3 linked regions of the Homo sapiens genome follow. The protein of the gene in region 2 interacts with the protein of the main gene of each other region in a biochemical or structural test. Each region holds a gene or a part of one and is shown on either strand. Other genes may lie near its edges.

Evidence for each region.
Region 1: of the proteins of GRK6 (region 2) and SNCB, one has a biochemical effect on the other in vitro, tested with the Homo sapiens proteins (one study listed by BioGRID).
Region 3: the proteins of GRK6 (region 2) and ADRB2 form a complex in vitro, tested with the Homo sapiens proteins (2 studies listed by BioGRID, with this or other methods).

Annotation. Positions count from the first base shown.
Region 1 is NC_000005.10:176,628,379-176,632,124, forward strand, and holds the start of SNCB (beta-synuclein), read right to left. Parts: upstream 2,157-3,746; 5' UTR 1,902-2,156; intron 1,588-1,901; exon of another isoform or gene 1,431-1,587; intron 1,286-1,430; 5' UTR 1,277-1,285; coding exon 1,156-1,276; intron 1,123-1,155; exon of another isoform or gene 1,061-1,122; intron 1-1,060. UniProt on the Homo sapiens protein: Non-amyloid component of senile plaques found in Alzheimer disease. Could act as a regulator of SNCA aggregation process. Protects neurons from staurosporine and 6-hydroxy dopamine (6OHDA)-stimulated caspase activation in a p53/TP53-dependent manner.
Region 2 is NC_000005.10:177,424,635-177,428,380, reverse strand, and holds the start of GRK6 (G protein-coupled receptor kinase 6), read right to left. Parts: upstream 1,706-3,746; 5' UTR 1,536-1,705; coding exon 1,484-1,535; intron 1-1,483.
Region 3 is NC_000005.10:148,824,857-148,828,602, reverse strand, and holds the start of ADRB2 (beta-2 adrenergic receptor), read right to left. Parts: upstream 1,993-3,746; 5' UTR 1,772-1,992; coding exon 530-1,771; 3' UTR 1-529. UniProt on the Homo sapiens protein: Beta-adrenergic receptors mediate the catecholamine-induced activation of adenylate cyclase through the action of G proteins. The beta-2-adrenergic receptor binds epinephrine with an approximately 30-fold greater affinity than it does norepinephrine.

The sequences.
Region 1 (3,746 bases), 800 kb from region 2:
CCCTGCCACCCTCATCCTGTGGCCTCATCAGGCCTCCCTGCAGTTTTTCTGTCCCCAGAGGCCCAAGTGACCGTTCTAAACTAATCACATCATGGCAGTCCCTTGCTTACAGTCTCTCGTGGCCATGATAACAACGTTTTGCCCTGGCCTGCAAAGGGCCCTCGTGAACTGTCTCCTGCCCATCGCTCTGACCTCACCTCCTACCACTACTTCCTGCCCTGCCCCCAGCTCACCCCAGGGCCTTTGCACCTGGCTTTTCTGCAGCCCTGCCCCCCTCTTATTACTCAGGGATGAGGCATTCTCTTCAGGGAGCCACTGGATGTCAACTCGCACTGCTGAAATGCTCTGTATCACCATCAGGAGATCAGGAACCATTCTTTCCTGTTCACTGTGAAACCCCAGCATCTGCAGGATGCCTGGCACATAGTAAGTGGACACAAAATATTTTTCAAATGGCCACAATCCAAATATGCCACGACCCTGGGCAAGTTATCCAACCCTGGCCTTTCTTCTGATACCAGCCAGTGGTTGCAAGGAAAGTGGACGGGGAAGAGAGCTGGCAAAGGTAAAACCACAAGAGTTGTGATGCAGGTGGACCTGGAACGCAACTCAACTCGGCCTTGGAGGTGCTGGAGGGAGGCGCCACAAGGGGAGGGGTGGGGCTTCAGAATCTATAAAGCTCCGTTCAAACCCCAGCTTCAGCATTTACCAGCTGCTGACCTTGGGCAAGGTACTTAGATCTCTGGGAAGCCCAGTTTCCCTTACCTGTAGAATGGGCCGAAGCATTACATGAGGAAATGGATGTTATGACATTTTACCCAGTACTTGGCATACAGAAAGTGTTCAACACCAGATAACTATTAATAATGGTAAAAAAGATAAGAAAAAGGAGGCTGTCTGCTTTCATCACTGCACTGGTCCCTGGCCTTTCAGCTGGAGCCCCCCACCTCATCAGCCCGCCCCGTGTCCCCATTTCCGGATACAGACCCAGGCTTCTATGGGCTGGCTATGTCCCCTATGACCCCTGCTGACCTCGCCCCATCTGCTGACTCATATTCTCCTGCCCAGAACCCCCCTCCCCGGGACCCGGCCCCAGCTCCACACTGTCGGGGGACCCCCAGCCCTGCAGCCCCAGAAACCCCGCCCCTTACCCACCGACGTAGAGGACGCCCTCCTTGGTCTTCTCCGCCGCCTCGGTGACCCCCTGCTTGGTTTTCTCCGCGGCTGCCACAACGCCCTCCTTGGCCATGGACAGGCCCTTCATGAACACGTCCATCCTGGCGGCCTGGGGAGGGCGATACACGGGCACCGGTGCACTGGCCCCGCACTCTCACCCCAGCCCCTCCCGCGGGACGCAGATGCCCCCCTACTCCCGAGACCGCGGCGCCCTTCTGGACCCTGAGCCCCCTCCCGCTTTCCCCCCATCCCACCCCACTCCCCAGTGCGAAGCCTCAGGGCCGCGGAGAGTCCTAGCGTCCTTGAAACCTGGGGACGCGGGAGGGGCCACTGCCTCGGTTATCCGGGCCCTGCAAACTGCAGCCCCGTCGAACCGGAGTGCTGGGTTCGGCGCGAATATCCAGGACCCGCCTGTACACGCACGGCACAGTCACACGGTCATGCACACAAACATACACCACGGACAAGCTCACGTGCACACACAGGACACGCAGACGCTCCAACGCGCACGAATACCCCGACCCACATGGGCGCGGACACACGTCCCCACAGCCGCCCGGGCAGCTGCAAACACCGGAGCATACTCACATACTCCGGGGTGCACACTGACGCGCATCCCCCGGGTCTCCCTCCATTTTCCATCCCCTTCCCCAGCTCCCTCCTGTCGCCCCAGTCCCCTCTCCATCCTCATCCCGTTCCCCATCCCCGGCGCGCGGCCGCCTCACCTGGATGCGGGGCCGGGGCTGGGGATGGAGCGGCGGCTGCGGCGGGCGGACGCGGGGGCTCCGCTAGGCCAGGCCGGGGTGGACCAGGGGCCGGAGGGGGGATAGGGCCGGGATCAGGCGCTCGGGTCGCGGGTCCTGAGCAGGAGCGCAGCAGTGCCCGGGTCTCGGGTGCGTAGCCAGCCACCGCTCGTTCCTCGCGCCCTGCGAGCTCGCGCGCTCCGGCTCCGGCTCCGGCTCCGGCGCTGCGGCAGCTCTGAGCTCAGCGCCCCCGCTGGCGGCCGCGCCGCCCCTTCGGCCTGACTGACAGGGGGCGGGGAGGGTGACAGCGCGTAGCCGATGAGCCTCCCGGGGCGGGCCCGGGACGCGCCCCTGGGGGCCCCGGCCGTAAGACTCGCGTAGTCTGTTGGGAGTTGAGGGAGGGGGACAACGCGGCGTGTGAAGAGTGGGGAAGAAATCACGCGACTGGATTTGGAGTTCTGCTGGGCTCGAATCTCAGCTGTGCTTTTTATTAACCGTGGGACCTTGAGCTACTCGGCTCTCCTTTCTGAATGACAGTTTCCTCCTCTGTAAAACAGGAATGGTTAATTCAACGAATGTTTACTGAGCGCTTAGTCCAGTGGTGCAGGTTTAAGGCTGGAGGCAGCGGAAAAGGAAAACAAGGTTCCTGGTCTCGGGAAGCTTACCATGGGGGTGTCTGTACGCGTGTGTGTTCGTGCGCTCAGTGGTGGAAGACAGGACAGAAAATAAACGGATCAACATCCAAAGCAACAAGGTCATTACAGCTTGTAAGTTGTGAAGGTAACGGTGATGTAACACGGGGACTAGAGGAGGGGTGCTTGAGACAGGGTGCTCAGGGAAGGCCTCTACCAGCAGGTGAATTGTAGCAGAGACTCCAGAGAGGCACCATGACACCACGATGGGTGAGGACAAGATCCATAGAGAGTGCAAGTGCAAAGGCTCCAAGGCAGGACTGTGCTGACAAAAGACAGCGCAGCTGGAGAGCCAGGATGGAGGGAGGTGGAGAACAAAACCACTTTTTTGTGTGCTTACGGTGGGGACTGTCAAAATGATCACAGAATGCCAGGCACACAGTAGGCCCTCAGTTGGTTCTATGATAGAATTATGCCCAAGAAGCTGTAGTATCCCAGAGGAAAGGGACTCTGACAACTTAGGGGAGTCAGGAAAGGACATAAAAAAGAGGTGACAACTGAACTGTGGCCTGACAGGAAGGGGACTATTTCATCGAGCAGGCTAGGGAGAAAGAGAATTTTAGGCTGTGGGTACAGCATGGGCAAAGGCACTGTGGCCAGAAATGCAGGGTGTGTAAGTGACAGGTAATTAGGCGAGGGGGCCACCAGCAGCCAGACTGCAAAAAAAAAAAAAAAGGAAAAAACCCAACCAACCAAACAAAAAACATTCACAGGCCGCTGGTAGAACTGCAAATTGGCGCAGACATTTTGGAAGGCAATCTGGCAATGTTTACCAAGCATAAATGCATGCGCCTTTGGAGCCAACAGCTCCCCTTCCAGGAATTGATCCCGTGCGACTCTAGCCATACATGCACACAAAGATACCTGTGCAAGGATGTTCACTGTAGCATGTTTTTTTGTAGCAAAAAACTGAAAATGATCTAAATGATCATCTGTACAGGACTGGCTAGCTAACTGTGGCACATCCACCCAGTGCAATGCCACACTATGGTTGGCAAAGATGAGCTAGACCCATGTGTGCTGACATGGGAGTGTGCCAAGATGTGGTGGTAAGTGTGAGAAGCAAGGTGCCAAACTGGAATGTGTGGAATGAGCCAATTTTGATACAAAGGGAATTATATTTTATGTATAAGTA
Region 2 (3,746 bases):
AGTCCCCAGTCTGGCCATACCACCCTGTGCCTTGCCCATGGCCTGACAAAGCTTGTCCAAAGGTACCCACACTCTCCGGCCAGGCAGTGCCATCAGCAGGCCTGAGGCCTTAACTGGCTACAGCCCTAGGGAAGAAGGCCTGTTTCGGCCCTCCCCACCCCTCCTCCCTGGCTGGTTGGATGACGAGGCAGAACAGAATCGGCAGATGCCCCCAGAGGCTGGGAGGAAGGCCTAGCCCATGGGCTCGATAAGGGACAGGGGATAAGACAGGCTCCCCAGGCAATGAGGACCCAGCCTGCCATGCCATTTCTGGGCTGCACCTCGCCAGAGCACTTGGTGGGCACGGGGTGCCAGGTGTAGCACCCAGCTGAAAGTTCCTCTGGGCTTCCTATAGACTGTGCCGGTCATCCTGTGTCTTAGGCCCGAGTCAATCACAATCTTGCTGTGTGACTGATGCTAATCCCTGGTTTGAGCCTCAGCTTCCCACATGTAAAATATGGTAGAAAGGTGAAGCAGATGACTTTTTAAGCCTGGAAGCCCAGCAAAGGGTGGAAAAACTGTCACAATCTCCCTCCTTGCCCTGGAGTTCCAAAAAGATGGGTCTTGTTTACTGCTGCTTCCCCAGCACCCTGGAAAAGGTGGGGCAGAGTGGGTGGTCAGTGATCATGTTACTGAGGTGGAGTGTGGCAGGTGGGGGCAGACTGACCACAAGGCAGTGAGGACCCGATCTGGTCCTTCTGTGTCTCCCAGGACCTGCACAGAGCAAGTGCCTGATAACATCTGGGGTGGGAGCCACGAGGAGCTACACACACACTCGGTCCACCAGACTGGTTTCCCCAGCCAGACCTCTGAGCTTACAATACTGACAGAGCAGCATGCTCTGCTCCCACTTCTTTCTGTGTCCGCTAGCCCCACTAGACCATGGGCTCCCTGAGGGCAAATATCCATTCACCTCTGCCCTCAGTGTCCTGAGGCACGGAGCAAGTGGCAGTCCTATAAGTAGCATTTGTGGCCAGGAGTTTCCCCAAGTCAGGTGGGCTGTGCTACGCAGAGGGTCCGTTTATTCATTCTCCAGCTTTACCTATCGCCAACTTTGCGCGGGATTAGGCTAGGGTGCTGGGGTCTGGGCCCCTGGCACGTGGGGCATCTTTACACCTCTCCCCTGGAGGAGGCTTGCCTCTCAGACAGGCTCTCCTGGGGCTCCGGTCCCACCCTTCCCTCTTCGTCTCACCTTCTTTCACTCCTTCACCCCCACCCGCCGCGAGGGCGGCGGCCTGACCCCCGCCCCTTCCTGGGCCCCGAATCCCGGGGGCAGGTGCGGAGGAGGAAGACGACGGGCCGGAAAGGCTCGTGTCTGGGCGGGGTGTAAGGCGCAGGGCCCGCGGGCCTAGGGGATCCGACGGCTGGGTAGCCCTGCGGAGCTCAGACGCAGCGCACTCGCGCTCCACGCACCCGGGCCCGGCCGCCCACCCGGCCGCCTCACCTTCCCGGGCCTTGAGTAGCACCGTGTTCGCTACGATGTTCTCGAGCTCCATGGGCTGTGGCGCCGCCTGGCCCGCCGGGCCGCGCCGCCGGCCGGGATCGCGCGCGAGTGCCGAGGCCGGATGGCGATCGGCGCGGCTCGGCGCGGCTCGGCTCGGCTCGCAGTGACCGCGCCGCGGCCTCCCCGGCCTCCCCGGCCGCCGCAGCCAGCCGCGCACTCTCCGCCCCCTCCCGGGGGCCACCCCGGCGCTGGCCCGCCCTGCCCCGCCCTCTGTTTACCTCATTTGACCAATCACCGGGCAGAAGCTCCCCGCGCCGTCTTCCCATTAGTCTTCCTCTTCATTTTTTCCCCCGCCCCCCCAGCTGGGGACTCGCTCAAAGAAGTACGGGGGCGGGACCAATCACGTCACCTCTTCCTGGTTGGTCTGAGGGCGGGGTTCAGCCCCTAGGTTCGAATTTCTAGGCTTTCGTAGGATACCAAACTGCCAATTAGGGCCGAGCCCTCAGCCGGGACAATGGAGGTGGGTACTCTGGGGCACGCCCAGGAGGCCGAATATGTGATTGGGTGAAGAAGACGTCCGTCATCTCAAGTACTGCATTTTGATTGGGTCGTCGCCTGAAGGTGTGGCCCGGCGGCCTTTGGCTCGCAGACGGCTTTTCTAGGGTTTTGTCGGGGACGCGCTCCGTATCCTGGGCCTCCTGCGGGCTGGCAGCGAGTTTGTTTGGTCCACTTGTGTGGCCGTATTCCCTTGGGTCGGCCCCAATCAGGAGGGCGCACATCGAAAGAGGGAGAGACAGGGAGGAGGCTGCGGCCTCGCAGCCGTTCCCCGACCTCTTGCCCGGTCGCCGCAGGCGCCCCGCCCAGCCCCCGCAGCCGGATGTTGTGATTTCTCTCCACCCACTCGGCCTCGCCTTCCCTCGGCCTCTGCCGCCTTATAAGGCAGCGCTACCACCCCTAGACCTCGGGATGAGTTCACACCCATTATACAGGTGGGGAGCTGAGGCGCCGGACGTCAAGTGGCTGGCTCCAGCCCGAAGACTACGGAGAAAACAAGGCTGAAATCTTACAGCTAATCAACACCTTGTAGCTTAACACCCCGCTTCCTCCACCCCCTACTTCACGCAGCAGGAAACAGGCTTGCCCAAACTCCGCGAGTAAGGCAGAGCCGGATCCATCTAGGCTTCTCTAGTTCCTATGCATTCATTCATCCGAAAATACAGAGCAACACCTCTGTGCCAGGCACCAAGCCAGGTGCTGGAGAACACAGTGATGGCAGCAAGATAGCCAGGCTCCCTGCTTACTTGCTAGAAGTGGAGGGAGCAAGTGAGGGCAGGGTGAGATAAAGGTAATTATTCTGTAAATAAACAAATAGATGGTTTCAGAGAGTGACAACTGCTCTTCGGACGTTAAGAGAGTGTGTGACACTCTCAGGGTGTGACATTTGAGCGGATCCAGTAGAAGCAACAGCAAACGCAGAGGCTCTAAGCCAGACTAAGTGGTGTGTTCAGGGAATAGGAGAAGGCGTCCGCAGCTTCTGGGCCCAGTGGTCTGAGATGAGACAGAAGGAGCAAAGGCACTAGCTAGGTCATGGAGGACTGTGAACACGTCCAGGAGGCTGAAGTGTTTTTGCTAAGTGAAATGTGAAACATTTGAAAGAATGATTTATATTTTAAAAATATCACTCTGGTGGATTCCTAGGGGGCCAAGAGTGGAAGCAGAGCAGTCAGGAGTTTACAGAATTCCAGTAAAGAGATGGTGGTGGCCTGGACCTACAAGGTGGCAATAGAGACGGAGAAAAGTGGATGGATCTAGGATCTAGGGAGTTAAGTACCTTAAAAGAGGGAAACCCTCCTGGCTAATGCGGTGAAACCCCGTCTCTACTAAAAATACAAAAAATTAGCCGGGCATGGTGGCGGGCACCTGTAGTCCCAGCTACTTGGGAGGCTGAGGCAGGAGAATGGTGTGAACCTGGGAGGTGGAGCTTGCAGTGGGCCGAGATCGTGCCAATACACTCCAGCCTGGGCAACAGAGTGAGACTCCGTCTCAAAAAAAAAAAAAAAAAAGGGAAACCCAGGGCCCAGTGGAACATAGGGCAGGTACCTCACTTAGTGAAGGCTGTTGTGTCCAAGTGAAATCTGAAGATTCAGTGAAAATGTGCAGGTTACTGGAGTAGGGAGGGAAAGAGCCTTCTGGACAGAGGGGTATCACATGTTCGAAGTTCCGTAGAGGAAGTCAGGAAGGGCTCCTGCGTTCAGCACCTAAG
Region 3 (3,746 bases), about 29 Mb from region 2:
CTGTAAACTTTAGACTTTGCTCGGGAAAACAACTGAAGCTGCTCCTCAAATCCCTGCCTAAAATACCCCGTGTGAGCAAATAAGAGGAGTGGGGGAAGAGTCCATGTTCACAGCTGAAAGGTCCGAGATACTCAAAATCCTCAAGTCCAAGGGTGTAGGAAGGAAAATCTCCTTCAGATACAAATTACCAGCAGCAATATATTACCCCTAATACTTGAATAGTGAGGTAGATACATGGAAAAGTCATGAAAATATAGCAGACTCAGGTCCTCTAGGACTAAAGCTCTTTAGACATAAACTTACAAATTCCATGCAAAGAGGAACTGAACTGTACAAATAACAAATAATCACTCAAATAAGTTTTCTCTCTTTTTACAGCTTAAAAAAATAAAAAAGGCAGAAGGATGCCCTTCCTTCTGCATATCTCTATACAATTTTACAATTTTATTCTAAGTTTATTACCCTCAAGTTAAATAGTCTGTTTAGTGTTCTGTTGGGGGGGGGGGTCTTTAAAAGTAGAAAAACTGCTTTACAGCAGTGAGTCATTTGTACTACAATTCCTCCCTTGTGAATCAATGTTATCGCTAGGCACAGTACCTTGATGGCCCACAAAGTCTTCCGTGCCTGGGAGGTCTTCACACAGCAGTTTATTTTCTTTCTCCTGTTCCACGTGATATCCACTCTGCTCCCCTGTGTTGCCGTTGCTGGAGTAGCCATTCCCATAGGCCTTCAAAGAAGACCTGCGCAGGCACAGAAGCTCCTGGAAGGCAATCCTGAAATCTGGGCTCCGGCAGTAGATAAGGGGATTGAAACCAGAATTGACATAGCCTATCCAATTTAGGAGGATGTAAACTTCCTTACGGATGAGGTTATCCTGGATCACATGCACAATGTTAACGATGAAGAAGGGCAGCCAGCAGAGGGTGAAAGTGCCCATGATGATGCCTAACGTCTTGAGGGCTTTGTGCTCCTTCAAGCAGAACTTGGAAGATCTGCGGAGTCCATGCCCCGTCCGCCCATCCTGCTCCACCTGGCTAAGGTTCTGGACATGGAAGCGGCCCTCAGATTTGTCAATCTTCTGGAGCTGCCTTTTGGCCTCCTGAAAGACCCTGGAGTAGACGAAGACCATGATCACCAGGGGAACGTAGAAGGACACGATGGAAGAGGCAATGGCATAGGCTTGGTTCGTGAAGAAGTCACAGCAGGTCTCATTGGCATAGCAGTTGATGGCTTCCTGGTGGGTGGCCCGGTACCAGTGCATCTGAATGGGCAAGAAGGAGGTAAGGCCTGACACAATCCACACCATCAGAATGATCACCCGGGCCTTATTCTTGGTCAGCAGGCTCTGGTACTTGAAAGGTGAAGTAATGGCAAAGTAGCGATCCACTGCGATCACGCACAGGGTCTCAATGCTGGCCGTGACGCACAGCACATCAATGGAAGTCCAAAACTCGCACCAGAAGTTGCCAAAAGTCCACATTTTCATAAGAATATGGGCGGCCCCAAAGGGCACCACTGCCAGGCCCATGACCAGATCAGCACAGGCCAGTGAAGTGATGAAGTAGTTGGTGACCGTCTGCAGACGCTCGAACTTGGCAATGGCTGTGATGACCAGCACATTGCCAAACACGATGGCCAGGACGATGAGAGACATGACGATGCCCATGCCCACCACCCACACCTCGTCCCTTTCCTGCGTGACGTCGTGGTCCGGCGCATGGCTTCCATTGGGTGCCAGCAAGAAGGCGCTGCCGTTCCCGGGTTGCCCCATGGCGCGCAGTCTGGCAGGTGAGCGCACTGGCTGGGGGCGCCTCAGCGGGCGGACCCACGGCGGGGCTCTGCGGGCCGCGAGCGGACGCCTGGAAGCCTCATTCAGCGGCTGTGGTGTGGGTGTGGTGGGGACTCGTCCTGCACACTCAGCTTGTCGGGTGCTAGGGGCTCGCGGTGCCTGCCAGTTCCAGCCCGTGCTCTGAAGAAGCCGCTTCGCAGTGCGTTCTGCCCGTTATGTGCACAGGACTTTAGGGGAACTGCCCTCGCCGTGACGTACGGGAACTTTCGGCCAATGGCACGCCGGCAGCCGCGAAGGGGCGAGGCACTCCTCCCCTTTCCCTCCCCTCCCCTCGCCCTCCTTCTCCTGGGGCTGGCCCGGGCGGGGCCCAACTGCTCCCTGGAGGGCGGGCCACCACTGCTTCCCGGCTACCCTGGCTGGCCCCAGAGGGCTAAAGCTGGAGGTGGTGTCCTTACCAGCCAACCCGGGAGCTTTTGGCTCTTCTGTGGCCGCTACCTGCCTGCCCTGGGCGCCTGCGCGGCTTGAGGTCTCAAGGCAGAGGGCAGCACACCGGCACTGCCCCACATTCGGAAGGAAACGAGAGTGCCCACCGAGGCACGCACATACAGGCACAAATACACCCTGGCAGACATGCTCAGACTTATACCGAACCACAGCCATAGACACTGAGACACACCCTCCCAGCTCACCGACATGCACACTCGCGCGCGCTCTCACACAGAAGCCATCCGGCACAAAGTCACCCCTGTCCAACACAGAAACGCGGCCAGAAACAAACACAGAAGCACCCAGAAGCACAAAGACATGGTGACACACACAGAAAGTAAACACACGCTGGCTTGGAGGCATCCAGAGCGACACAGACACGGATGTCTCCATCTGGGTACTCCGAACTTGCCTCACCCGAGCACTGATAATGCTCCCCTCCCAACATACACCCGGTAACCCAGTGTATTCCCTTTCAAACATTTGGCAAGAGCACAGGAGGTGACTTCAACAGCTGCTGATTTCCTCAGCACACTCGCTGTCAAGTACTTTAGGTGCCCTCCTTAGGAATTTGCAGGCATGAAGACAGTTTTACCCTTTGGATTTTATCTGGAGCGGGGGTATGCAAGTATGTATTTTGGGACAGAGAGAGAAAGTTGTGTGCTTTTGTTTTAATTTTTTTGTTGTTTTGTTTTTAACTCTTGAGAGTGTGGCATCACTCACTCATTATCTGTTGAACTGGAGATGCAATGAGAATTCAAACAATTTCTTCAGTAAACCCAATGAAACTAAAAAAAATCCTTTCATCTGCTGGATAGTTTGTTAATCTTTCGGGTTGTGCCATGTGAAATTGCCACCATCTGGCGTCTGTGACTTACCAAAATGGCAAATTCATATGGTTCAGAGTATTAAGAATGTCTTAACATTAAGAACATTTTGAAGCTATAGAAAGCAAAAGATCCTGGCCAATATGGTGTAACTCTTGTCTCTACTAAAAATACAAAAATTAGCCAGGTGTGGTGGCACGTACCTGTAGTCCCAGCTACTCGGGAGGCTGAGACAGGAGAATCTCTTGAACCCGGGAGGTGAAGGTTGCAGTGAGCCGAGATCACGTCACTGCGCTCCAGCCTGGGTGACAGAACAAGACTCCATCTCAAAACAAAACAAAACAAAAAACACAAGATAATTCTCCCTTAAGAAAAAGAAAAAAGTAAGACCAAATCTCAAAAGTAAGATCTTTGTTCATGAAATACTATCCTTTCCATCTGGCATGTGACTTTACTGCTAAAGTGAAATTAATTTTCAGGGTTTGATTTCCCATGTATTAGTGGTGTCTTTGAAAAACTGAAAGTATTTCATGAAGTGTAACTAAACGTACTTTGTAGATTACATAATAACATAACAATGGTTAACATTTATGGACCATTCTGCTATTTGCTTTTCATGCATTATTCTATTTAATCCTTCCCAC